Homo sapiens: one gene and its partners. The protein of the gene in region 1 interacts with the protein of each later gene in a biochemical or structural test. Each region holds a gene or a part of one and is shown in the gene's direction. Other genes may lie near its edges.

The links.
Region 2: the proteins of LRRK1 (region 1) and ITCH form a complex in vitro, tested with the Homo sapiens proteins (2 studies listed by BioGRID and IntAct, with this or other methods).
Region 3: the proteins of LRRK1 (region 1) and ECHS1 form a complex in vitro, tested with the Homo sapiens proteins (2 studies listed by BioGRID and IntAct, with this or other methods).
Region 4: the proteins of LRRK1 (region 1) and RET form a complex in vitro, tested with the Homo sapiens proteins (2 studies listed by BioGRID and IntAct, with this or other methods).

What each region holds. Positions count from the first base shown.
Region 1 is NC_000015.10:100,914,803-100,922,377, forward strand, and holds the start of LRRK1 (leucine-rich repeat serine/threonine-protein kinase 1), read left to right. Parts: upstream 1-4,554; 5' UTR 4,555-4,649; intron 4,650-7,575.
Region 2 is NC_000020.11:34,366,258-34,373,279, forward strand, and holds part of ITCH (E3 ubiquitin-protein ligase Itchy homolog), read left to right. Parts: intron 1-3,136; 5' UTR 3,137-3,213; intron 3,214-6,444; exon of another isoform or gene 6,445-6,469; intron 6,470-7,022. UniProt on the Homo sapiens protein: Acts as an Acts as an E3 ubiquitin-protein ligase which accepts ubiquitin from an E2 ubiquitin-conjugating enzyme in the form of a thioester and then directly transfers the ubiquitin to targeted substrates.
Region 3 is NC_000010.11:133,370,355-133,377,572, reverse strand, and holds the start of ECHS1 (enoyl-CoA hydratase, mitochondrial), read left to right. Parts: upstream 1-4,218; 5' UTR 4,219-4,239; coding exon 4,240-4,327; intron 4,328-5,909; exon of another isoform or gene 5,910-6,017; intron 6,018-6,815; coding exon 6,816-7,013; intron 7,014-7,218. UniProt on the Homo sapiens protein: Converts unsaturated trans-2-enoyl-CoA species ((2E)-enoyl-CoA) to the corresponding (3S)-3hydroxyacyl-CoA species through addition of a water molecule to the double bond.
Region 4 is NC_000010.11:43,108,054-43,115,075, forward strand, and holds part of RET (proto-oncogene tyrosine-protein kinase receptor Ret isoform a precursor), read left to right. Parts: intron 1-977; coding exon 978-1,177; intron 1,178-3,153; coding exon 3,154-3,412; intron 3,413-4,045; coding exon 4,046-4,171; intron 4,172-4,799; coding exon 4,800-4,910; intron 4,911-5,502; coding exon 5,503-5,622; intron 5,623-6,426; coding exon 6,427-6,683; intron 6,684-7,022. UniProt on the Homo sapiens protein: Receptor tyrosine-protein kinase involved in numerous cellular mechanisms including cell proliferation, neuronal navigation, cell migration, and cell differentiation in response to glia cell line-derived growth family factors (GDNF, NRTN, ARTN, PSPN and GDF15).

The sequences.
Region 1 (7,575 bases):
CGGACGGCGGAATGTGGCAGATGAAATGTGCTGGAGGAAAAAAATGACATTTCTGACCTTCCCGGGACACATTCTTCTGGAGGCTTTACATCTACTGGAGTTGAATGATTGCTGTTTTCCTCTCACTCTCCTGTTTATTCACCAGACTGGGGATGCCTATAGGTTGTCTGTGAAATCGCAGTCCTGCCTGGGGAGGGAGCTGTTGGCCATTTCTGTGTTTCCCTTTAAACCAGATCCTGGAGACAGTGAGATACTCAGGGCGTTGTTAACAGGGAGTGGTATTTGAAGTGTCCAGCAGTTGCTTGAAATGCTTTGCCGAATCTGACTCCAGTAAGAATGTGGGAAAACCCCCTGTGTGTTCTGCAAGCAGGGCTCTTGCACCAGCGGTCTCCTCAGGGTGGACCTGCTTACAGAGCAAGCCACGCCTCTTTCCGAGGTGAAGGTGGGACCATTCCTTGGGAAAGGATTCACAGTAAGGTTTTTTGGTTTTTGTTTTTTGTTTTCTTGTTTTTAAAAAAAGGATTTCACAGTGAGAAAGTTTTGGTTAGTGCATACCGTGGAAGGGCGCCAGGGTCTTTGTGGATTGCATGTTGACATTGACCGTGAGATTCGGCTTCAAACCAATACTGCCTTTGGAATATGACAGAATCAATAGCCCAGAGAGCTTAGTCAAAGACGATATCACGGTCTACCTTAACCAAGGCACTTTCTTAAGCAGAAAATATTGTTGAGGTTACCTTTGCTGCTAAAGATCCAATCTTCTAACGCCACAACAGCATAGCAAATCCTAGGATAATTCACCTCCTCATTTGACAAATCAGAGCTGTAATTCGCTTTAACAAATTACGCATTTCTATCACGTTCACTAACAGCTTATGATAAGTCTGTGTAGTCTTCCTTTTCTCCAGTTCTGTTACCCAATTTAGATTAGTAAAGCGTACACAACTGGAAAGACTGCTGTAATAACACAGCCTTGTTATTTTTAAGTCCTATTTTGATATTAATTTCTGATTAGTTAGTAAATAACACCTGGATTCTATGGAGGACCTCGGTCTTCATCCAAGTGGCCTGAGTATTTCACTGGCAGGTTGTGAATTTTTCTTTTCCTCTTTGGGGATCCAAATGATGATGTGCAATTTCATGTTTTAACTTGGGAAACTGAAAGTGTTCCCATATAGCTTCAAAAACAAAAACAAATGTGTTATCCGACGGATACTTTTATGGTTACTAACTAGTACTTTCCTAATTGGGAAAGTAGTGCTTAAGTTTGCAAATTAAGTTGGGGAGGGCAATAATAAAATGAGGGCCCGTAACAGAACCAGTGTGTGTATAACGAAAACCATGTATAAAATGGGCCTATCACCCTTGTCAGAGATATAAATTACCACATTTGCCTTCCCTTCATCAGCTAACACTTATCACTTATACTACCAATAACTTGTTAAATCAGGATTTGGCTTCATACACTGAATTTTCAGTATTTTATCTCAAGTAGATATAGACACTAACCTTGATAGTGATACGTTAGAGGGTTCCTATTCTTCCATTGTACGATAATGTCTTTAATATGAAATGCTACATTATTTATAATTGGTAGAGTTATTGTATCTTTTTATAGTTGTAAGTACACAGAGGTGGTATATTTAAACTTCTGTAATATACTGTATTTAGAAATGGAAATATATATAGTGTTAGGTTTCACTTCTTTTAAGGTTTACCCCTGTGGTGTGGTTTAAAAATCTATAGGCCTGGGAATTCCGATCCTAGCTGCAGATCGCATCCCACAATGCGAGAATGATAAAATAAAATTGGATATTTGAGAAACATTGTGCTTTTTCATTTAAAGACCAAAGTCATTTGAATTCGATGGCAGGCCTTTCTCTTTCTGAGACCTGTACGAAATGGCTGATATTAAAGCAGGATCAATAATGTAAGCATAAAATTACATTTGCTCAGTCAGTCGGGCCCAGTGCTTTGCCTGAGTGTGAAACCCATTTCTGTGGGCTTGGGGGTTGACCAGGCAAGGAGCTGGGCCTCAGAGGTTCCATGTCATAGCTGGCTGAGTTTCAGCTGTTATCTAAGCTGCCTGAGTCTCCTTTTATCATAAAGTAGTGATGGTGTCAGTGTGCGAAATGGTGGGGAGGACTGCATGAGGATTGACGGACAGCATTGTGCCCCTGACGGTGAGCACAAGTGTCTGTTTTTGTCACCTTTTCCTCTAGAGAAATCTAGAGGATCTAGAGAAAGGATCAATTTGGGTTTTACTGACCTCAAGTTTCTAAAGCTTCTAACCAAGAAGCCTCAATCACCCCGTTGTGAGCTGACGCTGCCATTGGCTCAAGATCATTGCTGGTACTGGGGTATGTCCTCCAAGCTCATCCCTTGCATTTGATGTGGAAAGCCCAGATCATTTTGACATGGGTGGCAAAGCACCACCACTTTAACAAAAAAGGGAGGCTGGGATCAGATCTCTCGTAACATATGCACTTATGTTAAGAGAATTTAGACACATTATTTAGAGACATCCCATTTCTCAATCCAAATGTGAGCAGGAAACTGTAGGAGAAGGATATTTTCCCTCATTTGGTGTCCCGGAACATGACTCCCTGAAGGGAGCCATTCTGGGGACAATTGGAGGGTGTGGTATGCGTGTGCACACATGCATTTGTGTGCCTGGTGTGCGTGTGGGGGTTGGCACCTCTCTAGAAGTGGACCCTTTGGGATGTCCTAGCTTCTCCTGCTGGTGGATGAAGCCTTTCTAATGGCTTTGCTCCTTGCTCCTAGGCATGAGCTTGAAGGGGGATAATGAAGGGCGTTTAGGAAGTTGCTCAAGGAAGACTGTCTGAGGAAACTGCGTACTGGGCTGAAGAAAGACAACCGGAAAACACTGAAGGAGCGCTCAGCCACTGCACCTTCAAAAAGGCAGAAAAGTCAGTTCAGGGAGGTGCCTCCCAGCTACCCCACCCACCTCAGGAGGGGTCATTCCAACCTAGGGTGCTGAGAATCTGGGTGGGATTACCAGCAAAAGCTAGAGAACCATGGGTCAGCGACCCTTAGGAAGAAGTGGAAAGGAGTCTTAACTTACCTGCAATAACCTTCCTATGCGAAGTTGTGGCTAACGCATGCCTAATGGCTAGAATTAAATGCTGGGAATATAACGAGCTCAGCACAGGTTATCCGCGTGTCAGATGTTCCTGCTGTCTTCTACAGTGGGGACATTTCCTAGCCTATTCCCAGGCTCCTTTAGAAGGGAAGTGGAGGTGCCCCATCTTCACCTGCCGCGTCCCCTCCAGCGTCTGCCCGGGCCCTGGGCCTGCGCTCCCTCGCGGTGGCGCCAGGTGGCGGGGCTGCGCGCCCTGGAGGAGCTGCACCGCCGTCGCGGGGCTCTCTCAGCACTGAGGACACCACGCCCTGCAAATTGTTGGGAACTTGTCGGTGGCAATCACACTGCTGGCTCCTGCAAACTGGTGTGAGGCCCTCAGGGGTGAGAACAGGATTGCAGAACTGCGCTCACCCTTTTGGAAAGTCGTCCAGTGGCAGAAGTAGCCTCCCAGGAGCAGAGCGAAGCTGCTCGGTGGTCCCCTCTCCAACCAGGGACCCAAGAAGCCGCTCAAGGGAACACGGCCCCGCGGCGTCCGGGAGGTCCTGCAGGAGCCCTGCGGCTGCCCCGGTTCTGTGAAATGGCAGTGAGGGTGGGGGAGATGTGCGCTAAATCCTGGGAACGTGCGAGTCATAACTTTCCAGGAGAGGGGCCCAGGGCGCTGGTCCTGCAGGGCGTGGAACCCTCTGCTCTTCCTGAGCAGGCTTTGTCCCCGGGTCGACACGGGGAGCTCAGCGTGAGGCCCGCCTGCAGCGTGGACGCAGATCTTTTTTATGGTCTGCGTTTCTGTATTAGCCTCAGCAGCCTGGTGACGCCTTTATAAAAGGTCGAAACACGATAAATTGCCAATATTCCACGTTTTATGTATTCCCCCCAAAGCCGACAATTAACAATGACTCACCGAGCAGCAGATTCTTTGCACACATCCATAATTGAATCAGTAAAATCCATGTGTTGGAGGATATGCAAATTGCAGGTCGTTAACGCTTTAGAACGACACATTTCTGTATCGCCCCGTGAAGAGCTCTACGCACATGAATGTTCCCCGTCTGTTTAACTGTTACGGCCGCAGTGTGTGGGCCGCAGGCGCGCTGGGGGCTCATCTGCTGATTTTGCTGCCCCTGGAGCAGAGGGATAGCGAAAGCGGGGCTGAGCGCAGCACGGACCGATCCCATCGCCGCGCTCGCCCCGCGTGGAGGCAGCCGGGTGCCCGAACCTGAAGGAGGACCCGGTGCCGGAAGGGCCCGCGGACCCCGGCGTCTCCCGGGGCATCGAGCGCCATCGCCCGCGTTTTACGGCCAGGGAAACTGAGGCGGCCGCCGAGGGGACGCCTCGCGACGGTTCCTGGGAGAGCTGGCGGCGGCCTTGCTCTGCGCGCTCTTCGCGCCGCCCTCCCCGCCCGCCCGCCTCAGGATTGAGGAAGTGCGTCTGGGCCCGGCCCCGGCGCGGGGGGCAGACGGCGGTGGGACGGCCAGGCCCCGGCCCCGCCAGTGTGTCCGCCCGGCCCCGCGTCCCGGAGCGCCCGCACCCGGCCCCGCCGCCGCCTCAGGTAAGCGCCGCTCCTGCCGGCGCCCCCCGGCGGCCTGGCTGCCTCCCGGCCCCGCCCGGGGAACCCAGAGCCCGCGCCCGGCGCCCGCGGGGAGCCTCGGCCTCTGCCTGCCCGCGGGCCCCTGCGCTCCGGGCGGCCGCGTGGTCGGGCACGGGGGGCCGTTGCGCAGGGGCCGCGGCCCGAGGGGCGCGGAGGGCGTGTGGGGCGACCCCGGTCTCACGTCCCCGCTGCCTCCCGCCGCGCCCGGAGCCCAGCCAGCCTGTGGGAGGGGAGCGCGCGGGGCCCGAGCAGGGAACCCCGAAACCCCGTCCGGGCAGGGTCGGGAAAGCTGGGAAGCGGAGGCAAGAGACACGAGTCGGGAGACACGAGCCGGGGAGCCCATAGGTTTCCTCTGCCTTTGGAGCGAACCCAGTCCCTTAGCGGGGAGCGGGCGGAGTGTGAGCGCGCGGGTGAGCCCGTGCCGGGGTGTCGGCAAGAGACCGCCCGGGAGCCTCTCGCTGGTCCGGGGCTTCCTGGGGTTGCGGGGCGGCCCAGCGAGGCTTCACCCTCCTCGATGTCTGGGTCACGCTTCTTGCCCAGGTGGTCTCTGGCTGGCGCAGATACAACTGCTCTGTCTACCATGGTCTCTGCAAGCTACAGGGGACCTTCCTGGCAGGCAGGGACGCGGGAAGGAAGCCTAGGAAGGCCGGGGTCAGCGAGGAGACGCTGGTGGAGAATCTGAGAACCCCCGTGGCCATCTCAACCTACCCCTTCACAGTATGAGGCCGCGAAGTTTTTCTCCCACGAACACTTCCCCTGCAACAGGTAGAGAAACGGGGGCATATAGCTTTCAGCAAACCTCTCACCGTGTACACTAATGATAGAGTTTGCCAGCCACTCACAGGGTATCAAAATGCCCAGACATTAAAGGGATAGCTAGAACATGCACAATTTTGGAAAATGTTAACATTAAACGCCTTTTATGATTTGATTCTCTTCATCTTTGCCTATGTCCTGAAAGAGAAAATAATATAACAAACTAACCTCACACCTAATTTGTTCCTAAAGGAGGTTTTGCGGTCAGCCAAACCTTTCCCTCTCCCAAAAGTCGATGTCTCTGGCAGTGACCTCGCAGTCAACTCGGATCCTCAGATAAAAAACATTCAGTCTGTTGAATCTATGTCTAAAATGTGTCCTGATCTGTCCCCTTTTTCTTATGCCCCCACCCCCCACCCTGCCCCTTGTCCAGGGTACCAGCATCTCTTTACTGTAGGATTTCAGTTCCCCCTTCCTCCATTCTCTATATAGCAGCGTGCGTCTGTGTGTGTCTGTGTGTTTAAATGGGTAAATCAGACCATATCAGTCCTCTTTATGGAGTCCTTCAGTAGCTTCTCCTTGCAACTGGCACGCAATCCAGGAGACCTCCTTCTCCTCACACCCCCAGCTGATCCAGCCTCTGCTGTCTCGGACCACCAGGCCATTGCCCCAGGCCACACTGGCTGAGCTTGCTGTCCAGCACTGGTCCCCTGCACTGCTGCCTCCTGACTCTTCACACAGCCTCAGAAAGTCTTCCCTGGTCACCCTCTGAAAACCCACGCTCCCTCTCACATCCCTCACTCTGCAGCCTCCCTGCAGTCCCCATTCTGTACTCCTTCTTTATCTGTTTAATTTCTCCTTAATTATCTTGTGGTCTCCACTGGAGCTCTTGGGGTCAGAGACTGATCTGTCTTGCTTATTGCTGTGCCCTCATTCCCATAACTGTACAGGGAGATACCCCGTGCATGGTGGTAGAGTGACTGGATGGGGAATGGACAACCCTAACTTACCTGTGGTTTCAGACTCATGGAGCATTTCTCTCCTCCACCCTTTTTGGGCTCATCTGGGATTGAGAACAACATATTTCTCTGGCCTGCAGCTCCAAGATATTTGGATGCCCCCAAACCCATTAAACACATTTTATAGGCAAAAGCCAATGCTAGTAAGGGATGCAAATAGCACTCAAGAGATTTCTAGAATCATGGGCTAACCATTTTGACCAGGATTTTGTTTCAAAAAGGAACTAGGTGATATGAATGAGCATGTCTAGCATGCTTTGCTTGCAAGGGACTTCTAACTTCTAACTGATATCGACAGTCCTTCCCAAGCCTCCTAAAATATCTGGGCTTCTCTGCTGTCAGAAGCTTTATAGCAATTACTTAGCTGTCTGCTCCCCCACCAGCTTCACAAACTCATGAAGTTCCCTCTTCATAGAAAGAACTCAATAAGACATTTGTAGAATGAATGACAGGTTCTTCTCTTTTCTTTTCTCTAGAGTCTTGCTCTGTCACCCAGGTTGGAGTGCAGTGGTGCAATCTTGGCTCACTGCAACCTCCACCTCCCCCAGTTTAAGTGATTCTCATGCCTCGGCCTCCCAAGTAGCTGGGATTACAGGCGCCCACCAGCATGCCCAGCTAATTTTTGTAATTTTAGTAGAGATGGGTTTTTACCATATTGGCCAGGGTGATCTCGAACTCCTGACCTCAAGTGATCCACTCTCCTCGGCCTCCCAAAGAGCTGGGATTACAAGCGTGAACCACCGCACCCATCTATTTTCTTTTCCATTAAATGTTTAGGTTTATTCATTAATGCAGGTATAAATAGTTGGCAAAAGGAAATTGATGAGGTTTTGAAAAATCATTTAAACCATCATTACTGCTGAAAACCTCTTGATGCCCTCTTTAGGGTGTATAATGAAGACATGTAACTTGTAATCATCACTTGTTGGCACCTCTCTGGACCCAAAAGAAGCAGGAGGAAGCAAAGATCCGTTTGAGGGCAAAGATTGAGCAAAATTTGAATTACCTCATCTTAAAACTTCTACCTTAGAATATAAGCCAAAATAGTAACTAGAATTTTAAAACTGCTCCAGGGGCAGAGTCTTCCACTGGTAAAGTGATTTTCAAAAGGA
Region 2 (7,022 bases), on another chromosome or scaffold:
TTGTTGAGACTGGGTCTCACCCAGTCACGCAGGATGGAGTGCAGTGACAGGACCTCCAGAGCTCAAGTGATCTTCCCACCCCAGCCTCCCTGAGTAGCTGGGACAACAGGCATGCATTAGCATGCCTGGCTAATTTTTAAAATTTTTTTGTAGAGAAAGGTTCTCTTTACGTTGCCCAGTCTGGTCTTAACTCCTGTGTTCAAGTGGTCCTCCCACCTTGGCCTCCTAAAGTGTTGGGATTACAGGTGTAAGCTACTGTGCTCTGGCTAAAAATTTTAAGTATAATGCTAAAAATTTGGAATTTTATGTTGGTAGAAATAGATACAGGGCTGGGCTCAGTGCCTCACACCTGTAATCTCAACAGTTTGGGAGGCTGAGGCGGGTGAATCGCTTGAGCTCAGGAGTTTGAGACCAGCCTGGGCAACATGGTGATATCCCGTCTTTACCAAAAGGAAGGAAAAAAAAAAGAAATAGATGCAGATTTTTCGACAGGGAAATGATGTGAGTACATATGTGTTTTAGAAAATTGCTGTGTACTGCAGGACAAAGATAGGTATCAAAAAACAAAAAAAGAAAGATTGCTCTGGTGATGAGCGAAAGGATGAGGGACTAGCTATTGCAGAAGTCTAGTTGAGAAATGACAAAGCCTGACCTTGGAGAGAGGTTGTGGGGATGATCAAAGGATTGGATTTAGCTTTTTACTAGTGCAATATTGTTGCCATATTTCTAGATGAGGATTTTTTTTTAGAGCTAATCTGGGTAAAGGGCTCCTTTTCTGTCAAAAGAACCCATTAGCAAGTCTGAATAATATTGCCAGGTTATATATGTTATGTATAGTATGAGAGTGAATTGTTCATTAGCATCTTTGAGAAATTAGAAAGAACTATGTCAGGTGTAATTTGGAAGAGAACTTGAAGTTTGTTATTGTTACTATTTTTGAGATGGAGTCTTGCTCGGCCATGCAGGCTGGAGTGCAGTGATGTGATCTCGGCTCACTGCAACCTCCACCTCCCGGGTTCAAGCGATTCGTGTGCCTCAGCCTCCCAAGTAGCTGCCTCCCAAGTAGCTGGAATTAGAGGTGCATGCCACCAAGCCTGGCTAATTTAGAACTTGGAGTTTGGACTGAAATTTATGCCTCTAAAAAGTATTGATCTAGGCTTGTTGGGAGTGTTTTTCTCTCAGCCTGTAGAAACTTGCTCATTGAGTTTTAGAGTTGGGAGAAGTTACAGAGATTATCTAGTCCATAATGGCAAATATATTTTGGTTTATTGGCCAGCTCTAATTGGAAGCTGCCAGAAGCACTGTGTTTGGAAGGATTCTGGTTGTAGGTGCTCTGAGAAATTGTATTATGGTTGATCAATGATGTCTCCTGTGGACAGTTACCTAGTAGGTAGTAGACATGTGCCAAATATATGCTATTCTTAGATAAGTCCAATCTCTTAGTTTTCTGTTTTGTTGTTGTTTGTTTGTTTTAAAGGTTAAATAATTTACCTGAAACTAGTTAAGAGTAAGAACTAGAACTAGAACTGGGTTTTGCAACTCTGGGACTGGTATTCTCTGGTTTACAAAGATCAATGTGCACTACTGAAGAGCTTCTGGTATTAGACTAGAAAAAGAAAAGGGAGATTTTTAGCCTATGCGTCTTGACTGTTTAGGCAAGAGTTTAACAAGGAATTTTGGCCTAGAAGTAAGTTTTGTTATATTCATTCTGTCTTAAGAAATTTGTGTTAGGGCCGGGCGCGGTGGCTCATGCCTGTAATCCCAGCATTTTGGGAGGCTGAAGCGGGCAGATCACGAGGTCAGGAGATCGAGATCATCCTGGCCAACGTGGTGAAACCCCCATCTCTACTAAAATACAAAAAATTAGCTGGGTGTGGTGGCATGCACCTGTAGTACCAGCTACTTGGGAGGCTGAGGCAGGAGAACCACTTGAACCTGGGAGGCGGAGGTTGCAGTGAGCTGAGATTGTGCCACTGCACTCCAGCCTGGCAACAAGAATGAGACTCTGTCTCAAAAGAAAAAAAAAAAAAAATTCGTGTTAGTACTGATAGGAAATAGTCATCTGTTTTGTTGTTTTGCCACTTTCTTTCTTGTTGCCTAAGTCTCTGTTTTGGGTTTTGGACATTGGTTTCCTTTATAAGAATTAAGACAAAAGTATGTAAGGTTTTTTTTTTTGTATTTATAGTACTTAGCCAAATTCTGGGCTCATAATAAGCACTCAGTAAAGGCATGTTGACTTTTATGGCTGTAAATGATACTGGCTTTGAGTCAATATAAATTAGTTAGGGGGTTCACAGAATTGAATTGCAGCATTCTCTGGTTGGGAGGTTGGCTTTCAGCTAAAAACGTTAAGTTGGAAACTATCCTCACAACTAGAAGCAGTTAACCAGAAGCTGTTCCTGCCTCTATCCTCCTCCAGTCTAGCAGTGTACTGTCCTTGAAAAACTGCTGCCAGCTCAGCTTTTTTGCTTCTTTTCAGAACTGACTATATCCAGATCCTTGGTGTGCGTTTTCTTTTCCTGTCCCTAGGAGTCTCCAAGTTGCAGGGACTATCATTATGGTGACCCTTATAGGCTGGTGTATTTATATGGCCATCCTCATTTTGCCAGATAGCCGTCATACTCAGATTGGTGTCTTCCCATAATACGTATGAATCATTTTCCCTCAGTTCTTTCTTTTGTCCTGTCTGCTCCATTAAAAATTGTCTATCCCATGAAATTTTTAAAAGAGACTTTGTGCTTTTAGAGTCGCAAGGTCGTTGCAGATCTGATGTGTTTAACTATAGAGGTCAGCTGGGTGTGGTGGCTCACGCCTGTAATCCCAGCACTTTGGGAGGCTGAGGTGGGTGGATCACGAGGTCAGGAGTTCAAGACCAGCCTGACCAATATGGTGAAACCCCATCTCTACTAAAAATACGAAAGTTAGCCAGGCGTGGGGGTGCACGCCCGTAGTGTAGTCCCAGCTACTCAGGAGGCTGAGGCAGAAGAATCGCTTGAACCCAGGAGGCGAAGGTTGGAGTGAGCCAATATCATGCCACTGCACTCTAGCCTGGCGACAGAGCAAGACTCCATCTCAAAAACAAACAAACAAAAAAATATAGAAGTAATGTGTTAATGGACTCTCCTTCCTTTCTCAGGTACCATGCATTTCACGGTGGCCTTGTGGAGACAACGCCTTAACCCAAGGAAGTGACTCAAACTGTGAGAACTTCAGGTATGGTGTCATCCTGTGAGAGAAATTGGGGGCAAGAGTGATGCAGAGGCCAAGCTCTGGTCTTATACCTGCTGTGAGGAGAGAGCAGTGTTGATGCTAGCTGCATCAGTTGGTTGAACATATAGGCAGCTTCACTTGGTTCTGAAACCCAAAGCTGCCTCTGCAGGGATTAGCCTGTGAGCCACACTGTGCTCTTAATTTGGGTTTTCTGACTTTTCTGTTTTTGTAGATCCCTTATACATATGCATACTTTTTCTATTTGTGTTGTTTTATACACGTTTATCTCTGTATACTATCTAGACATGTGCATGTGTAGGATTAAGAGGTGGGTAATGAAAAAGAAGACAACATGGCCAGGTGCAGTGGCTCATGCCTGTAATTCCAGCACTTTGTGGGGCGAAGGTGGGAGGATCACTTGAACCCAAGAGTTTGGGACCAGCCTGGACAACATGGCGAGACCCTGACTCCACACAAAATAAAAAAAAATCAGCTGGTGTGGTGGCGTGTACCTGTAATCCTAGCTGATTGGGAGGGTGACATGGGAGGATCACTTGAGCCAGGAGGTTGAGGCTGCAGTAAGCCATGATCACGCCACTGCACTCCAGCCTGGGTGACAGAGTGAGACCCTGTCTCGGAAAAAAAAAAAAAAAAAGACAACATGGTTCAGTGCAGAAAGAATAGAGGACTTGGAAAGAAAAGATCTGGGTTCCGATTTGATTTTGCCACTGACAAGCTGTGTGACTTTCGGCGAGTTATTTAATCTTGCCAGACCTCAGTTTATACATCTGTAAAATAGGTAAGTATTGATTCCTGTCTCCATCCCTGGCATTGTTGTGTGGATCAAATAAAATAATACCTATTAAATCTTTAGAAAAGGAAATGAATTCATGACTTAAAATGTTATCTTGGCCAGGCACGGTGGCTCATACCTGTAATCCCAGCACTTTGTTTGGGAGGCCAAGGTGGGCGGATCACTTGAGGTCAGGAGTTTGAAACCAGTCTGGTCAACATGGTGAAACTCCATCTCTACTAAGAATACAAAAATTAGCAGGGTGTGATGTCATGTGCCTGTATTCCCAGTTACTTGGGTGGCTGAGGCAGGAGAATCATTTGAACCCAGGAGGTGGACACTGCAGTAAGCCAAGATCGTGCCACTATACTCCAGCCTGGGCAACAGAGTGAGAGTCTGTCTCAAAAAAAAAAAAAAGAAAAGAAATGTTATCTAGATCCACAAGGTGAGAGAAGTTGAGAGTAGTATTGTGAAGGAAAACATGAGGACAAGACAGATCACTTTAAAAGGTCAGGAGAGAAGGAAGACTACTGGGTAAGAAAAAAAAAGTAGAACATAAAGTTAAGCAGTAAGAGAATAGGGAGTGAATGAAGTTGAGCAGGTGAATTGTTAGATAAGAAAGCTGAGGCTGGGCGCGGTGGCTCACGCCTGTAATTCCAGCACTTTGGGAGGCCGAGGCGGGTGGATCACGAGGTCAGGAGATCGAGACCATCCTGGCTAACAAGGTGAAACCCCGTCTCTACTAAAAGTACAAAAAATTAGCCGGGTGTGGTGGCGGGCGCCTGTAGTCCCAGCTACTCAGGAGGCTGAGGCAGGAGAATGGTGTGAACCTGGGAGGCAGAGCTTGCAGTGAGCCGAGATCACACCACTGCACTCCAGCCTGGGCAACAGAGCCAGACTCCGTCTCAAAAAAAAAAAAAAAAAAACTGAATAGGAAGATACTGGTAAAATAGAACTAAAATATGATCCAGCATTGCCACTTTTGGGTATATATCCAAAGGAAATAAAATCACTTCTTCTTTTTTTTTTTTTTTTTTTTTTTGAGATGGAGCCTTCCCCAGGCTAGAGTGCAATGGCACGATCTTGGCTCACTGCAGCTTCTGCCCCCTGGGTTCAAGTGATTCTCTTGTCTCAGCCTCCTGAGTAGCTGGGACTCGGGAGGCCAGGCGTGCACCCACCACACCTGGCTAATTTTGTATTTTCAGTAGAGACGGGGTTTCACCACATTGGCCAGGCTGCTCTTGAACTCCTGACCTCAGGTGATCTGCCCGCCTCTGCCTCCCAAAGTGCTGGGATTATAGGCGTGAGCCACTGAGCCCGGTCCTGTTCTTTTTTATAATCAAGAGAAAGGAAGGAGATGGTGGAATGATTTGTGATAGCTACTATAAAGCAATTTAAAAAATATTTAAAAGTATTATTAAAGTATTTAAAATATCTTTAAAATATTTCTCAGCATATCCATTTCATCTCAAGCTCACAAAGCAGTTCTTTGTGGAAAGGTATTTGAGCCAACATTCAGGAAACCTGCGTTCTACCATTGGTATTACTGGTCACTTAAATTCTGTGATCTTGGGCAGCTCACTTAAATCTCCCTGGGCCTGGTTTCCTCACTTATCTATTGAATGTTTTGAATATGATTTCTCAGGTTCTTTCCAGCTCACTCTATTATATTCTGTGCTTTATGTGCTAACTCACTGATTTTTCATGGCTTTGTTGACATCACAATATATGACTGATATCAGAAATATCTTATAATAAGGCTTCGGCCGGCCGCGGTGGCTCATCCCTGTAATCCTAGCACTTTGGGAGGCTGAGGCGGGCGGATCACGAGGTCAGAAGATCGAGACCATCCTGACTAACATGGTGAAACCCCGTCTCTACTAAAAATACAAAAATTAGCTGGGCGTGGTGGCGGGCGCCTGTAGTCCCAGCTACTCGGGAGGCTGAGGCAGGAGAATGGTGTGAACCTGGGAGGCGGAGCTTGCAGTGAGCCGAGTTCACGCCACTGCACTCCAGCCTGGGCGACAGAGTGACAGAGGGATACTTTGTCTCAAAAAAAAAAAAAAAAGGCTTCATAATGTCTGATGCTTTATAAATGAGAAACCATGTTATTTTAAGTTCTACTTTTTTTTTTTTTTGAGAGGGAATCTAACTCTGTCACCCAGGCTGGAGTGCAGTGGCGCAATCTCAGCTCACTGCAACCTCCGCCTCTCGGGTTCAAGCAATTCTCCTGCCTCAGCCTCCTGAGTAGCTGGGATTACAGGCACCCGCCACCATGCCTGGCTAATTTTTTGTATTTTTAGTAGAGATGGGGTTTCACCGTGCTAGCCAGGATGGTCTCGATCTCCTGACCTCGTGATCTGCCTGCCTCAGCCTCTCAATGTGCTGGGATTACAGGCATGAGCCACCGTACCCGGCCTTTTAAGTTCTACTTTAAACATTGGCACTGAGAGACCTGTAGGAAACGTAAGTATAGAAAGTTTAAGTTTGTAATATTTGACAAGGATCTGTTGAGCTGCTATTGTGCTAGGTTCCAAGGGGTACTCAAATATAAAACTCCTGGTTTAAGGATTTTGTCAGGAAAACAGACTTCCTTGCCAGTGATTGATTATTATAAAAAGGAAGTTGGTAAATGTTACAAGAGTTTCATTGCATTGCAATTTAAGAAATTAAGTTCAGATTTTTTGGTTCCTTTAACATGATTGAATGTATTCCTTTTTTTTTTTTTTTTGAGACGGAGTTTTTCTCTTGTTGCCGAGGCTGGAGTGCAATGGTGCAATCTCAGCTTACTGCAGCCTCCACCCACTGGGTTCAAGCGATTCTCCTGCCTGAGTCTCCCAAGTAGCTGGGATTATAGGCATGTGCCACCACGCCCAGCTAATTTTGTATTTTTACTAGAGATAGGGTTTCACTGTGTTGGTGAGGCTGATCTTGAACTCCTGACCTCAAATAATCCACCTGCCTCGACCTCCCAAAGTTCTGGATTACAGGCATAAGCCACTGCACCTGGCCAAATGTA
Region 3 (7,218 bases), on another chromosome or scaffold:
CGCACAGGCTGGGTGGGCACAGCTGTGAGGGAGGCCACCCCATGCCTCAGGCCTCCTGCACAGGCGTGGGCCTCGCCACTCTGGGTGGACAGGCTACTTTGGCCCCTCAGCCTCTGGGGACTGCTGCCCTGTTTTCAGCACCGTGTCAGGCACCATCTGGTCAGCCAGCTCCTCCAGCCCCGAGACTCCCGTGTCCTCATTCTCCTGGGCCGTTACGGTCGGCCAGTGCCCAGCCTTTGCTGGAAGGCTGTCCAGGCTGGGCTCTGGTCAGGCATCGATGTCCCCCAGGCACCTGGCCTCACCTCGCGTTGGGACAGCCTCTGCAAGATGGAACAGGAAGGGTCTGGCTTTGCCTCTGTCACCTTCTCCCGGTCCATCATGTCCTCCTGGCCAGCCCGTTCCTGGTTCCTGCGGGGAGCCCAGCCCGAAGGGGAACCGAAAGATTCTAACTTAACTCTAGTTCAGCCTCCCGGATCCTCCTGTGGAGCGGCAGGATCCCATAAAAGATACTTGGCTCAGCAACTTGCTGGCCAAGCCTCCCCACAGCGGTCCACACAGGCCAGAGGTAAACATGCCCATGCCCCACACCTGGAAGGCCTGGTGCAAGGAGGGGTGATTGTAGTGACTGAAATGGGAACTCTGGCTTTATGGCGCGGAGAGAGAAGACATGGACCCAAGAGCTGCAGGGTGGGGACAACCGACGCGCTCTTTGTCCCCTGGATGTGGTGCCACAGCCTGAATCCAATAGCACGGGCCGCTGACGCGCTGACCTGGGGCTGGGTTAGTCGCTCGTCCCCCTTGCTCTGAAATGGAGAGTGCACGTGACCACGGCCAGTCCTGGACAATCCTGCCATGCCAGAGCCACCAGCTGGAACACACGGACACAACCTCTTTTCCATCTGACTGGTACAAGGTATGTGCTTCTCCTAGCTCCAGAGGGCCTTGGGTGATGCCACCTATGGTGATCAAGGTGGCAACTACCCATGTGGCTTTGACTGAATCAGGCTTGTTCATTTTTTAAAATAGCTTTATTGATATAGACATCATGCTGTAAGACTTCTCCCGTTTAAAGTGTTCAATTCAATGGTGTTCAGTTTAGTTACAGAGTTGTGCCACTGTCACCATCATCCAGTTTAGAACTTTTTTGTTTTGTTTTGTTTTTTTGAGATGGAGTCTTGCTCTGTTGCCCAGGCTGGAGTGCAGTGACACTACCTTGGCTCACTGCAACCTCTGCCTTCCAAGTTCAAGCAATTCTCCTGCCTCAGCCTCCTGAGTAGCTGGGATTATAGGCATGTGCCACTACGCCCGGCTAATTTTTGTATTTTTAGTAGAGACGGAGTTTCACCATGTTGGACCAGGCTGGTCTCGAACACCTGACCTCAGGTGATCCACCTGCCTTGGCCTCCCAAAGTGCTGGGATTACAGGCGTGAACCACTGCGCCTGGCCCCAAGTTTAGGACATTTTCATCACCCTAAAAAGCAAATGGGGATGCCCCTCAGCAGTCCCCCCCATTACCCCTCCCTCCAGCCCCTGGTGACCGCTAATCTAGTTTCTGTCTCTGTGGATTTGCCTGTTCTGTACATTTCATAGAAATGGAACCTATTCAATGCACGGCCTTTGTGTCTGGCTTTTTTTACTGAGCATAACATTTCCAAGGCTTGTCCATTTTGTAATGTGTATCAGCGCTTCTTTCTTTTTTACTCCTGAATAGAGTCCATTGTATAGTCTAATACATTCTAATGTATCCATTGTTTGGATATATGACATTTTGTTTATCCATTCATGAGTTGATGGACAATTGGCTTTTTCCCTCTTTTTGGCTATTATGAATAATGTTGCTATGAACGTTCATGTCTAAGTTTTTGTGGACATTTGTCTTCATTTCTCTGAGGTGTACACCTAAGAGTGGAGTTGCTGTTTGACCTTTTGAGGAAACAACAGACTGTTTTCCAAAGTGACTGCACCATTTTCCATTCCCGCTGGCAGTGTACCAGCGTTCCCCGCTCACGTCCCCCACAACCCGCTGTGACTGTTGGGCTTTTTATTGCAGCCAGCACAGTAGGTGTGACGTCGTATCACTGAGGGGTCAGTTTGCATTTCCCTAATGATTCGTGATGCTGAGCTTATCTGACACTGATTATCTTCATTGGAGGAATGTCTGTTCAGTCCTCTCACTATCTTGGTAGTGTCCTTTCAGACATAAAAGTTTTAAATTTTGGTGAAATCCAATTTACATATGTTCTCCCTTTGTTGCTTGTGCTTTTGTGGCTACATTACTTGATGGAGGACGGGAGCTGCCCGGCCTCCTGGGTCGTTAGAAAGGAAACCTCTTGGCGGACACGGTGGTCCACTCCTGTAATTCCAGCACTTTGCGAGGCCGAGACCGGTGGATCACTTGAGGTCAGGAGTTCGAGAACAGCCTGGCCAACATGGCAAAACTCCCGACTCTACTAAAAAACTACAAATATTAGCCGGGCATGGTGGTAAGCACCCGTAGTTCCAGCTACTCAGGAGGCTGAGGCAGGAGAATCGCTTGAACCCGGGAGGCGCAAGCTATGATGAGCCGGGATGACACCACTGCACTCCAGCCTGGGTGACAGCGAGACAAGAAAGAAAGGAAAGAAGAGAAGGTGAAGGAGAAGGAAGGAAGGAAATAAACCTCTTTTCTGTCTGAGCCATTTCATTTTGGGCCTGTCTGTCCCAGAGGTTTAACTACACTAGTATAGAGCATCGTTTACTAAAGGTTTGTTGAGGTTTGTTGTTGATTTGTTTCTACTTACACGAGATGTCTTCATTTTTACCCTCGGTCTTGAAATAAAATTTTGGTGCATGTTCATTTTTGGTTTGAATTGAATTATTTTCTTGAACATAGTGAGGCAGGAGAACAGGGTCTGGAGGCCAATTCATGCTGACTCCCTAGAACTAAATCAAATGGAAACACTTCCGCTATGACAAGAAGTGTCCTCTCCATTTACACAGGGCGTACACCAAGTAACCAATGGAAACCTCTAGAGGGTATTTAACCCCCCCAAAAAATCTGTAACGGGGCTCTTGAGCCGCTATGCTCAGCCGCTCCCACAGTGTGGAGTTATTTTCGTTGTCTTTTCTTGTTTCTTTTTTGAGACGAAGTCTGGCTCTATCGCCCAGGCTGGAGGGCAGTGGTGCGATCTCGGCTCACTGCAACCTCCGCCTCCCGGATTCAAGCAATTCTCCTGCGTCAGCCTCCCGAGTAGCTAAGACCACAGGCGTGCACCACCACGCCCGGCTAATTTTTGTGTTTTTAGTAGAGAGGGGGGTTTCACCATGTTGCCCAGGCTGGTCTCAAACTCCTGACGTCAGGTGATCTGCCCGCCTTGGCCTCCCAAAGTGCTGGGATTACAGGCCTGAGCCACCGCGCCCGGCCACACTTTTGTTTTCCATAAATCTCGCTTTTGTTGCTTCCTTCTTTCCGTGCTTTGTTTGTGCGTTTTGTCCAGTTCTTTGTTCAAGACGTCAAGAACCTGGACACCCTCCACCGGTCACAATAGCAGTTTCGCTTTCCATTCCATTTTATCCAGGGTGGTTTTATCTCCACCCTGGCGTTTGCAGAATCCGGGCAAGTACACAAATGGATGCTCCACAATACTTGTCTAGATATTTAAAAGGTATAAATAAAATAACTTAAATGAATGAAATTTTTATTATTTAAATCTGTTGAAGTCTTGTGTGCATGAAAATAAAACTCCTCCTAATGTGGCGTTCAGTGCCCACGCCGCTGCCACCGTGCCTGGCCCTGCGCCTGGGCGCGCTGTGTCCGCTGCTACAGACGCCGGCGGGCAGGCGGGCAGGCGGGCAGGCGGGCAGGCGGGCAGGCGGGCAGGCGGGCAGGCGGGCGGGGGGAGGCGGCGCAGAGCCCGGCAGGCGCCGCCGTTGCCTCCGCCTCCGCGCGGTCTCCCCGGGGCCAGCTGGGACCCCGAGGGCTGGGGCGGGGGCGGGGGCGCGGGCGACTGCGGCGGGGCCTGGAGGGCGCTGGTCCCAGCCCAGGGCGGGGTCCCGGGGACGCCCCTCGGCCTTAGATCCGCGAGCGGCAGCTCGGGCCTGGGGGCGGGGCCTGGCGGAGAGCGACCCGCTCACTCTGCCCGGGCTGATCTCGCGAGGGCCGCCTGGTCTCGCGGCGCTGGCCTGTGGGCGGAGCGAGCCCTGAAAGGCTATAGGCGAGGGGGCGGCTCCGCGGGGCCGGGCGAGGAGTCCAGAGAGCCATGGCCGCCCTGCGTGTCCTGCTGTCCTGCGTCCGCGGCCCGCTGAGGCCCCCGGTTCGCTGTCCCGCCTGGCGTCCCTTCGCCTCGGGTGAGTGCGCGGTGAGAGCTGGCGGCCCGAATCTCCTCCTGACTCCGACCTGCACGCCCAGACCAGATCCCAGACCGCACCCCCCTCCCACCTGACCCCGCATCCCCCACCTGACCCCAACCCACACCCCTCTTCCGCCTGACCCCGCACCCTCACCTGACCCCTACCCGCACCCCACTCCGCCTGACCCCGCACCCCCCCGCCTGACCCCGCACCCCCCCACCTGACCCCGCACCCTCCGGCCTGACCCCTACCCGCACCCCACTCCGCCTGACCCCGCACCCCCCCACCTGACCCCGCACCCCCCGGCCTGACCCCGCACCCCTCTTCCGTCCGATCCCGCATCCCCAGGGCCTGACTCCGCACTCTCCTGCCTGACCCCGCACCTACCACCTGACCCCGACCCGCAGCCCCTGCCTGGCTCAGGCCTGCAACACCCCCCTCGCCTAGTGCTGCACCCCCCACCTGACCCGCACCCACAGCCTGACCCAGGCTTAACACCCCCCCACCACCCGCCACCCCGCACCGACACCACCCACCTGACCCTGGCCCGCACCCCCACCCCCTGCCTGGCTCTGCAGGAGGCCACTCTCACCAGGCCACGTCCTGCGGGAGGCCCGGCGGCTGGCTGGTACTGCCCCAGTGCCAAGACCTCTGGCCAACTGGGCGCAGGGTGGGGGTTGTAAAAATCCGGGGTGTTCCCTCGGCTCTAAGAGCAGGCGTAGCTCCTGTGCAGCCGGCCAGCCCGAGAACAGGAGATGCAGGTGCATTTTGTCCTGGGTGCCTCCTGACCAGGGCCACCCCTCAGAGGGTCCTAAGGGAAAAGCTGACACCTCCTCCCCAGCCACAGGGGGCTGCCCTCTTCCTCCCTCGTGGCTCACCCGGGGCCCCACTCATGAGCGGCCATCACCGGCTCTAGTATCTGAGGAATCTTGGGCCATGCCTTGGGCTGGGGAAGAACTCTTGCTTCCTCTTCCTCCCTCACCCTGTGTAGCAGTGGACCACTGAGTTGTGTTGGTTTCATCTCCATGCTCTCCTTGGCCTTCGGCTTCTCCACCCTGACAGCAGCCCTTTCCTGGATCTTGCATGGCGGGCACTGCTGCCAGACACTTCACCTGTGATCTTCCAGTTACCCCTAGAAACCCACAGGATACGGCGGGGCACAGTGGCTAATGCCTATAATCCCAGCACTTTGGGAGGCTGAGGCAGGTGGATCACCTGAGGTCATCAAGACCACCTTGGCCAACATGGTGAAACCCCATGTCTACTAAAAATACAAAAATTAGCCAGGTGTGGTGGTGTGTGACCGTAGTCCCAGCTACTCGGGAGGCTGAGGCAGGAGAATCACCTGAACCCTGTAGGCAGAGGTCGCAGTGAGCCAAGATTGCGCCACTGCACTCCAGCCTGGGCAATAGAGTGAGACTCGGTCTCCAAAAAAAAGAAACCCATAGCACAGGGACTATGATCCCTGCTCTGCCACTAACGGAGGCAAGCATCCAACACACAGGCTACCTTTGTCTTTTCAGGTTCACCTTCTCACCCCTGGAACGCCATTGTCCTTTGTCTCCTTCCCACCTTGCTGTCCACCCAGCAGGCGCAGGTCCTGTGCAGCAGGCCAACCGAGAAGCGCCTGCGTCTCCCATTTTCGGGCTGGCCTGCTGCTCCGGACCTGTGCCTGATCTTAATGCTGCAGGAACACCCAGGATTTTCACATCCCCCACCCTGCGTCCAGTTGGCCAGAGGTCTTGGCACTGGGGCGGTACCAAGTGCAAGGAGCTGCCTTACACCCCCTCACCTGTTGGCATTTGTTGAAAGAAGGTGTTTCCTGGTGCCTTGTCTCAGCAGAGTCCAGGGCTGTCTCCAGAGTGGTGTCCTGGGAAGAGCTGACCAAGGCATATTAGGAGAAGGAAAGCGGCTGTGGGCTGTGTTCTGTGCTGGGGATTTTTCTTTTTTTCTTTTCTTTTTTTTTGAGACGGAGTCTCACTCTGTCACCCAGGCTGGAGTGCAGTGGCATGATCTCAGCTCACTGCAAGCTCCACCTCCTGGGTTCATGCCACTCTCCTGCCTCAGCCTCCCCAGTAGCTGGGACTACAGGCGCCCGCCACAACACCCGACTAATTTTTTGTATTTTAGGTAGAGACGGCGTTTCACCGTGTTAGCCAGGATGGTCTCGATCTCCTGACCTTGTGATTCGACCGCTTCGGCCTCCCAAATTGCTGGGATTACAGGCGTGAGCCACCGCGCCCGGCCCGGGGATTTTCTTTAGGACATGTTCAAACACATGTGAAAGCAGAGAGAATGGTACCAAGGCTACCATCTATCCTTGTGGCTGAGAGCTACACCTGGAGCCACTGAGGACTCGGCAGGGAGCCCTCAGAGGGCCTCTTGGGGTCACACTGTATCCACCGATGGGGCCACATCCCTTCCCCCACTCTCCCCAGTTTGATACCTGTGTGAATAGATACCCCTTTTTGCCTTCTTGCTCCAGGTGCTAACTTTGAGTACATCATCGCAGAAAAAAGAGGGAAGAATAACACCGTGGGGTTGATCCAACTGAACCGCCCCAAGGCCCTCAATGCACTTTGCGATGGCCTGATTGACGAGCTCAACCAGGCCCTGAAGACCTTCGAGGAGGACCCGGCCGTGGGGGCCATTGTCCTCACCGGCGGGGATAAGGCCTTTGCAGGTACGCGCGGCAGCAGAGGCCTTTGTGTCTGGGCAGATGTGGGAGGCACGTATGGCCTTGGGAGAAGCCTCCAGACAGATTTGCGCCTCTGTGATGGCAGAGGCATGCGACTGGGGACTTCCTCAAATATCGAGTGAAGACGGTCATGGGAACGGCTTGCATGAGCAGCTTTGTGTATGCCAGAGAGCTGCATGTGCTCCACCAG
Region 4 (7,022 bases), on another chromosome or scaffold:
GATTTTATGGACCAGGCATAGTGGCTCACGCCTGTAATCCCAGCACTTTAGGGAGACCGAGGCGGGTGGATTGTTTGAGTCCAGGAGTTCGAGACCAGCCTAGGCAACATGGTGAAACCCTGTCTCTACAAAAAAAAAAAAAATACAAAAAATTAGCCAGGCGTGGTGGCACATGCCTGGATTCCAGGAACCTGGGAGGCTGAGGTGGGAGGATGGCTGGAGCCTGGGAGGTCAAGGCTGCAATGAGATGCAACAGAGCAAGACTCTGTCTCAAAAAAGAAAACCAATGTTATGGTTTGTAGGGTGTTTCTTAACCCTTGCCTGGCATGGCCTTAGGTCCTGTTTATAATTTGGTATCTTACTGCCACAAAGAGTCCGATCTGTCAGTCTTATGATCTCTGTTTTAATGTTAATGCCGGTCAGTTGTGTCCAAACTCCAGCAGGAAGAGGGCCTAATAAGGCAAGTCCACCCTGCCTTCCTGTCATGGCCCAGAATTCTGTTTTTAAGGTTTTTCTGGTGTCCCTTGGCCAAGAGGGGATCTATTCAGTTGGTCCGGGGACTCAAGATTTTAGTTTCAGTTTACAACTCTATACACAAACACCCCATACACACAGGCACCAATACCCTATGCACAGACACCACACAAATGCATACTACACACTTACACATACCACACACACGCATACCATGCAAGCATATCATACACACAGACACCCCATACAATGCGTACACATGCACACACACACAGGCTGCCTCAAATTGAGAAGGGTTCCTTGGACTTTCAGTTCAGTAAATCCCAACGTTTGAACATTGGTGCTAACTTAGGACCAGCCCCAGGCCTGTTGCATGGCACTGTATGTGTGAAAGTGCGTGTTTGCACCAGTGTGAGTGCAGGGCTGTGTCTGGGAAGAGGTGTGCTACACATGAGGAAGCAGCCAGAGCAGCTTGGTGGTCATTGTTGTGCCCCTACCTGCAGGGCTGGTTCTCAACCGGAACCTCTCCATCTCGGAGAACCGCACCATGCAGCTGGCGGTGCTGGTCAATGACTCAGACTTCCAGGGCCCAGGAGCGGGCGTCCTCTTGCTCCACTTCAACGTGTCGGTGCTGCCGGTCAGCCTGCACCTGCCCAGTACCTACTCCCTCTCCGTGAGCAGGAGGGCTCGCCGATTTGCCCAGGTGAGCCCATACCTATTGCCTGTCTGGGGAAGATTGAAAGGCCAAGGGACATGGGGGCACAGGGAGGCAGGTGACACTGCCTCTTGGCCCAACCAGCACAGAGTAGACTGGGTGGAGTCCTGAGCCCAGGGCCAGGAGGTACAGCTGTGTGCACAGAAGAGGCCTGGGAGAGCTCACAGTGGGCAGGGCTGGGGGCTCCTTGGGCCTCTCTTTTTTTCCCCTTTCCATTCTTGGTATCTTTAAAATGTATTTTCAAAAATGCAAGAGCAATACTGGGTAAATCTGCATATGGTGACTCGGAAGAATCTTCCTGGTGGATTGGTGAGAGTGGCTTGCAGAGATGTTGGTCCCACGTGACTCCCTTTGTGCAAAAGCAGATCTTCCCTGACAGGGATCTGCAAGTGTGCAGAGATCACAGTGCTGTCCACAGTGGTGCCCTCAGGGGGAGGCAGGAAACGCTTCCACTTTTTACTTTTTGTAACTAGGTTTGCTAGAAAGCGTATATTTATATTTGTCTTTGGAAAATAATGATTAGAAATAGAAGGCATAAAAGTAATAAATATTCATTAAAGAAGATGAGGCATGAGGCATGAGGCGTGATCCCTTCTACCCATAGGCGCCAGTGTTGCACATCGTGGTGTTCTTTCTGGGATGTTTCTCGTAAGCACTTATTAAGTTGACTTGAAACTGCAGCACGCATGTTCTCGCATGCCGCTCTCCCTTGCAGAGCAGCCCGTGGCGCCTCCTCTTCAGGGGCCATCTGCCAGTTCTTTCGGGTGGTTCTGTGCCCGCATCAGCTCCTGGCAGCCACCCGTGTCCAGCCCACGAGGGAGCCCACCCTTGGACATATCTAAGCTCCCCGACCACCTCCTTGGCCTTTAATGGGAGTGGGATCAGAGACAGAGGGGCGACAAGACAGAGGGCCCCGGGGGGTCTCATGGGGGGCGGGGCAAGAGCAGGCATTGCTGAAGTTGGGTCACCTGCCCTCTGTCAGGAGCAACGGGGGCCTGAATCCCAGTCCAGCCTCAGCCTCACTGTGGTCTCACCTTTCTCCCCAGTTTGTAAAGCTGTGAATTAGGGACAGGAACCCTGAACAATTTTGAGAGTCACATGAGCATTTGGAAGTGGGCTTTGTAGGGGAAAGTGAGGAGGCCCAGGAGGCTGGTTTTTGCTGTGGTCACTTGTGGGCCTGGGAGAGCCCAGCCCTGCTCTGGCCCGCCCCCATCTCGCCATCTGTGGAACTTTTGGTTTCAAGCAGCTGCAAGAGTTGCCAAGAGGTTGAAAGAATTCAGCTGCCTGACTCCAGGTCCTGGCATCCCCAGGAGAGGCCCCTCTTTCCCAGGGGCTCTGGTCAAAGTCCCAGAGCCTGGCATCCCCAGGAGAAGAGGCTCCTCTTTCCCAGAGGCTCTGCTCAAAGTCCCAGGGAGGCCCCCTGGTCCTGCATGGGCTGGGGCAACCATGCTCCCGAGTCTTGTGGCTGGGGTTCAGTGCTCTGACCAGGGGACACCAGGGCAGGGTGGACCTCTAAACCCTGTGCACTGAGGGAGGAGTGAGGGGTCCCCAGAGCACTGCTGGGGCAGCTGGGAGCAGCCAGGGAGGAGCCTGGGAGACATTCCGGCGGCTTTGTTGTCTGAGTGAGGGAGGAAAGGGGAGTAAAGGGTTGAGTCAGGGCCTGCCTGGGGCTTTTCCTGCCACCAAACTGAACCTCGAGGCCCTGGGTTGCCTTGACCTCCAGCTCCCAGGAACAGGGGCAGCTGGTAACATGTGGCCTGAGTGGAACGGGGCAGGGCAGGGCTGGGGCAGGTGGGTGGGTATGAAGGCTCTGAGGGGTGGAGGACAGGGTGCTCGGGGGGGCTGCTGTCTCCAGGCCCAGTTGGGGGCTGTTCCAGGACTTAGGCTGTGTGGGAATCTCTACCCTCAGGCCATTACAGGCCGGTCCAGCTGCCTGGCTAAGGTGTTCCCCTGTGCCCCCCTAGATCGGGAAAGTCTGTGTGGAAAACTGCCAGGCATTCAGTGGCATCAACGTCCAGTACAAGCTGCATTCCTCTGGTGCCAACTGCAGCACGCTAGGGGTGGTCACCTCAGCCGAGGACACCTCGGGGATCCTGTTTGTGAATGACACCAAGGCCCTGCGGCGGCCCAAGTGTGCCGAACTTCACTACATGGTGGTGGCCACCGACCAGCAGACCTCTAGGCAGGCCCAGGCCCAGCTGCTTGTAACAGTGGAGGGGTCATGTGAGTGCCTGCTCCAGGGAGGGAGGGTCGGGGTCCTGGGGGCTTCTGGAGCCTGGGCCTCCTGCCCTTTGAGAAAAGCAGTACAGCTGCAAGGCTTAGCTGGGGAGTGGGGAAGGCATGGACCAGCTTCACCCTGAGTGACCCAGCAGTAAATGGTTGCTCCTTCCAGATAACATACAGGACCTTGGGTAAATTTGAATTTTGGGTAAACAACAAGCAGTTTTTTGGTATAGGTGTGTTCCATGCAACTTTTGCAGCTTCTCGAAAGACACACCTCTAGGTCCATCCATGCCCTCTTAGGAACATGCTGACACAGCTGCCATTCATGCCATTCATTGTGTATCTGAAATGTAGGTCCCACAGGGCGTCGTTGGCTGAATCTGGCTGCACTCACATCCTTCCTCCTGTACTTACCCCAGCCCAGGTGACCCCTGCTTTGTGACCATGATGTCCTGTACCCTGCCCTGCGCCCTGTGCTCCTGGCACTGTCTTTGCTGCCCTGGGTCTGTCACTCCGGTCCCCTTGGGCTCCATCCGTGGGCAGCTCAGCTGGTGCTGTTCCCTGTCCTTGGGCACTAGCTGGACGCTGGGCCCAGGCCAGCCCCCTGTGACCCTGCTTGTCTGCCACCTGCAGATGTGGCCGAGGAGGCGGGCTGCCCCCTGTCCTGTGCAGTCAGCAAGAGACGGCTGGAGTGTGAGGAGTGTGGCGGCCTGGGCTCCCCAACAGGCAGGTGTGAGTGGAGGCAAGGAGATGGCAAAGGTAAGCCCTGGAAACGCCCAAGGGAGGCCTGCAGGGGCGATGGCACCGGTGGAAACGGGGTCCTGGGGCCCTGCCAGCCTGGGGTGGCTCTCCCTGCTCCAGGTCTGCTTCTGGCACCTCATCCCCCATGTGGCTCTCGATGCCAGCATAGCGGGCAGCAGTGCAGGGCTTGGGAGAGGGCTTGTGAGTACAGTGAATGGTCCCCAGGCCGGATTCACTCTGGACTTGGGAAGGTCTGAACCAAAGTTGGGATGTGCTGGGGACAGAATGGCGTTTTTCTGGGAGGTCCTCGGCCAGGGGATGTGGTGTGGGCAGGGGACTCATTGTCTGCATCAGCCAGAGGCCAGCCTGGGTGTGCCCACCACCATGAGGGGCCCTCACCATGCAGCCCTGAGAGGGTCCCGGCCTCTTTGCTGTAAGGGCCACCTGTGTGAGGAACCCCCCATACCTCCTCTCCCATAAGCCATGGCTCCCCAGGATGCTTCCGCTGGCAAGGCTCTGTATATGGTGTTTCCCTACTCAGGCCTCCAGTTGCTCCTCCCTAGAGGGGCAGGATCTGCCTAGGAGGTGGTGGGGGCGTGTGGCGGGGCTCCCACATGGGTGACAGCCTGCTGTGTGTCCTGTGCAGGGATCACCAGGAACTTCTCCACCTGCTCTCCCAGCACCAAGACCTGCCCCGACGGCCACTGCGATGTTGTGGAGACCCAAGACATCAACATTTGCCCTCAGGACTGCCTCCGTAAGCAGGGTTTAATCAGGGCATGGGAACAGGTAGGAGATAGTAGGGGAAACCTGGATCCCACAGGCACTTCAGCCAGAGTTGCCAGGGCTGTCAGTTCTATGCATCAAGCTGAGCCTCCTGTGCATTTCAGCATCACCCTAGCCATGGGGAGGGAGCAGGCAGGGTCAGGGACAGGGGGAAGGCAGGGACCCACAGACTGTCCAGGCCCCTGCTGAGGTCCCAGAAGTCGGCACACACAGATTTCAGAAGCAGAGAATGGTCAGTAGGGACACTGACAGGGAAAGTGCGGCCCTGAGCCAGACGAGGGACACTGCAATGTGCGGGTCAGGCCACCAGGCTCCAGTTTTGGAGGCAGAGTCCTTTGTTCAGATGAAATGTTAGGAGGGGGCCTGGCTTCACCCATGGCTTCAGAAAGGCACTGTGACCAAGCCCTGCCCGGCTAAGCCAAGCTGCTGGGCCCCTGGCCTCACTGGGCCTATGCTTGCGACACCAGTTGGGGAGGGGGCTCCTTGGGACACTGCCCTGGAAATATGGGCGCCTGGGGTGGTCAGGCGCCCCAGGAGGCTGAGTGGGCTACGTCTGCCCTCAGGGGGCAGCATTGTTGGGGGACACGAGCCTGGGGAGCCCCGGGGGATTAAAGCTGGCTATGGCACCTGCAACTGCTTCCCTGAGGAGGAGAAGTGCTTCTGCGAGCCCGAAGACATCCAGGGTGAGTGGGTGGCGGCCGGGACCACCACCACCTCCCAGCCCCACAGAGGTCTCAACAGCACATCTGAGGTCCCAACAAGGGAGGAAATTGCTGGGAGGCGAGTGGGCCCCATGAAACTTCCCTCCCTCCCTCTGGGCCTCTGTTACTCCACCCAGGAGAGGGGCCAGGGCCCCTGTAAAGTGTCTTCTGGCCATAAGTTCTATGATGGACAGGCCAGAAAAGCAGTTCTTCCACCAAACAACTTGTCAGCCTGACAAGTCACTGTCCCTGTGACCATGCAGCTGGGACCCACCCAGGAACACATTTCAAGGTCAGCAGGTATGGTGGGTTGCACAGCCACACTGACTACACTCAGGGGTGCTGTTCTGCCTGAGCATAGGGACACGTTTCTGTCATTGAGTTTTCTGGTATTATATAGCCCTACGTCCCTAGCCACTTAGCATTTTCATAAAGAAAATGCCAAAGACATTTGGAACAGAGGAAAATTTTGACCTCCCCTGCCAGCCCTCCAGTGCCAGCTGGTGTAATGAGCACAGCCTCTGCTGTGTGACCTTGGCAGGCTGCTCAGCCTCTCTGAGCCTCTGTCTCCATCTGTAAGAGGGCAATAGTGGTCTAGGAGGGGGCAGTAAATGGCAGTACCCATGCTCGATGGGGTGTTCTCAGGCCTTCCCACACCTCCATGGCCACTTCCCAGCTGGCGCGGACACGGCAGGCTGGAGAGCCATGAGGCAGAGCATACGCAGCCTGTACCCAGTGGTGCCGAGCCTCTGGCGGTGCCAAGCCTCACACCACCCCCACCCACAGATCCACTGTGCGACGAGCTGTGCCGCACGGTGATCGCAGCCGCTGTCCTCTTCTCCTTCATCGTCTCGGTGCTGCTGTCTGCCTTCTGCATCCACTGCTACCACAAGTTTGCCCACAAGCCACCCATCTCCTCAGCTGAGATGACCTTCCGGAGGCCCGCCCAGGCCTTCCCGGTCAGCTACTCCTCTTCCGGTGCCCGCCGGCCCTCGCTGGACTCCATGGAGAACCAGGTCTCCGTGGATGCCTTCAAGATCCTGGTGAGGGTCCCTGCGGGGCAGGGAAGATCCCCTGCCCTCCCCAGCTGCCTTCCAGGGAGGGAGGCCAGCTGGGGAGACAGAGGCCATCCTGTGAGGGGCTGCCAACGCTGGGCAGACGAGGCCTGTGTTCTGCCCCCATTTCCATAGGGCGCTGTGTGGGGACAGTCTGTGGGGTGGGACTGTGATGAGGTGCCGTTCCCATCTAGGTGAGAGGCAGTGGTCAGGGTCACAGCATCGGGCAGGGGAGCAGCAGTGTGGATGGAGGGGCACTGAAGTCAGAAGGGGGTGCCTTTCTGGGGAGCCTGGCCTGCAGGTCTGCATGTGCTACTCAGAGCCTCC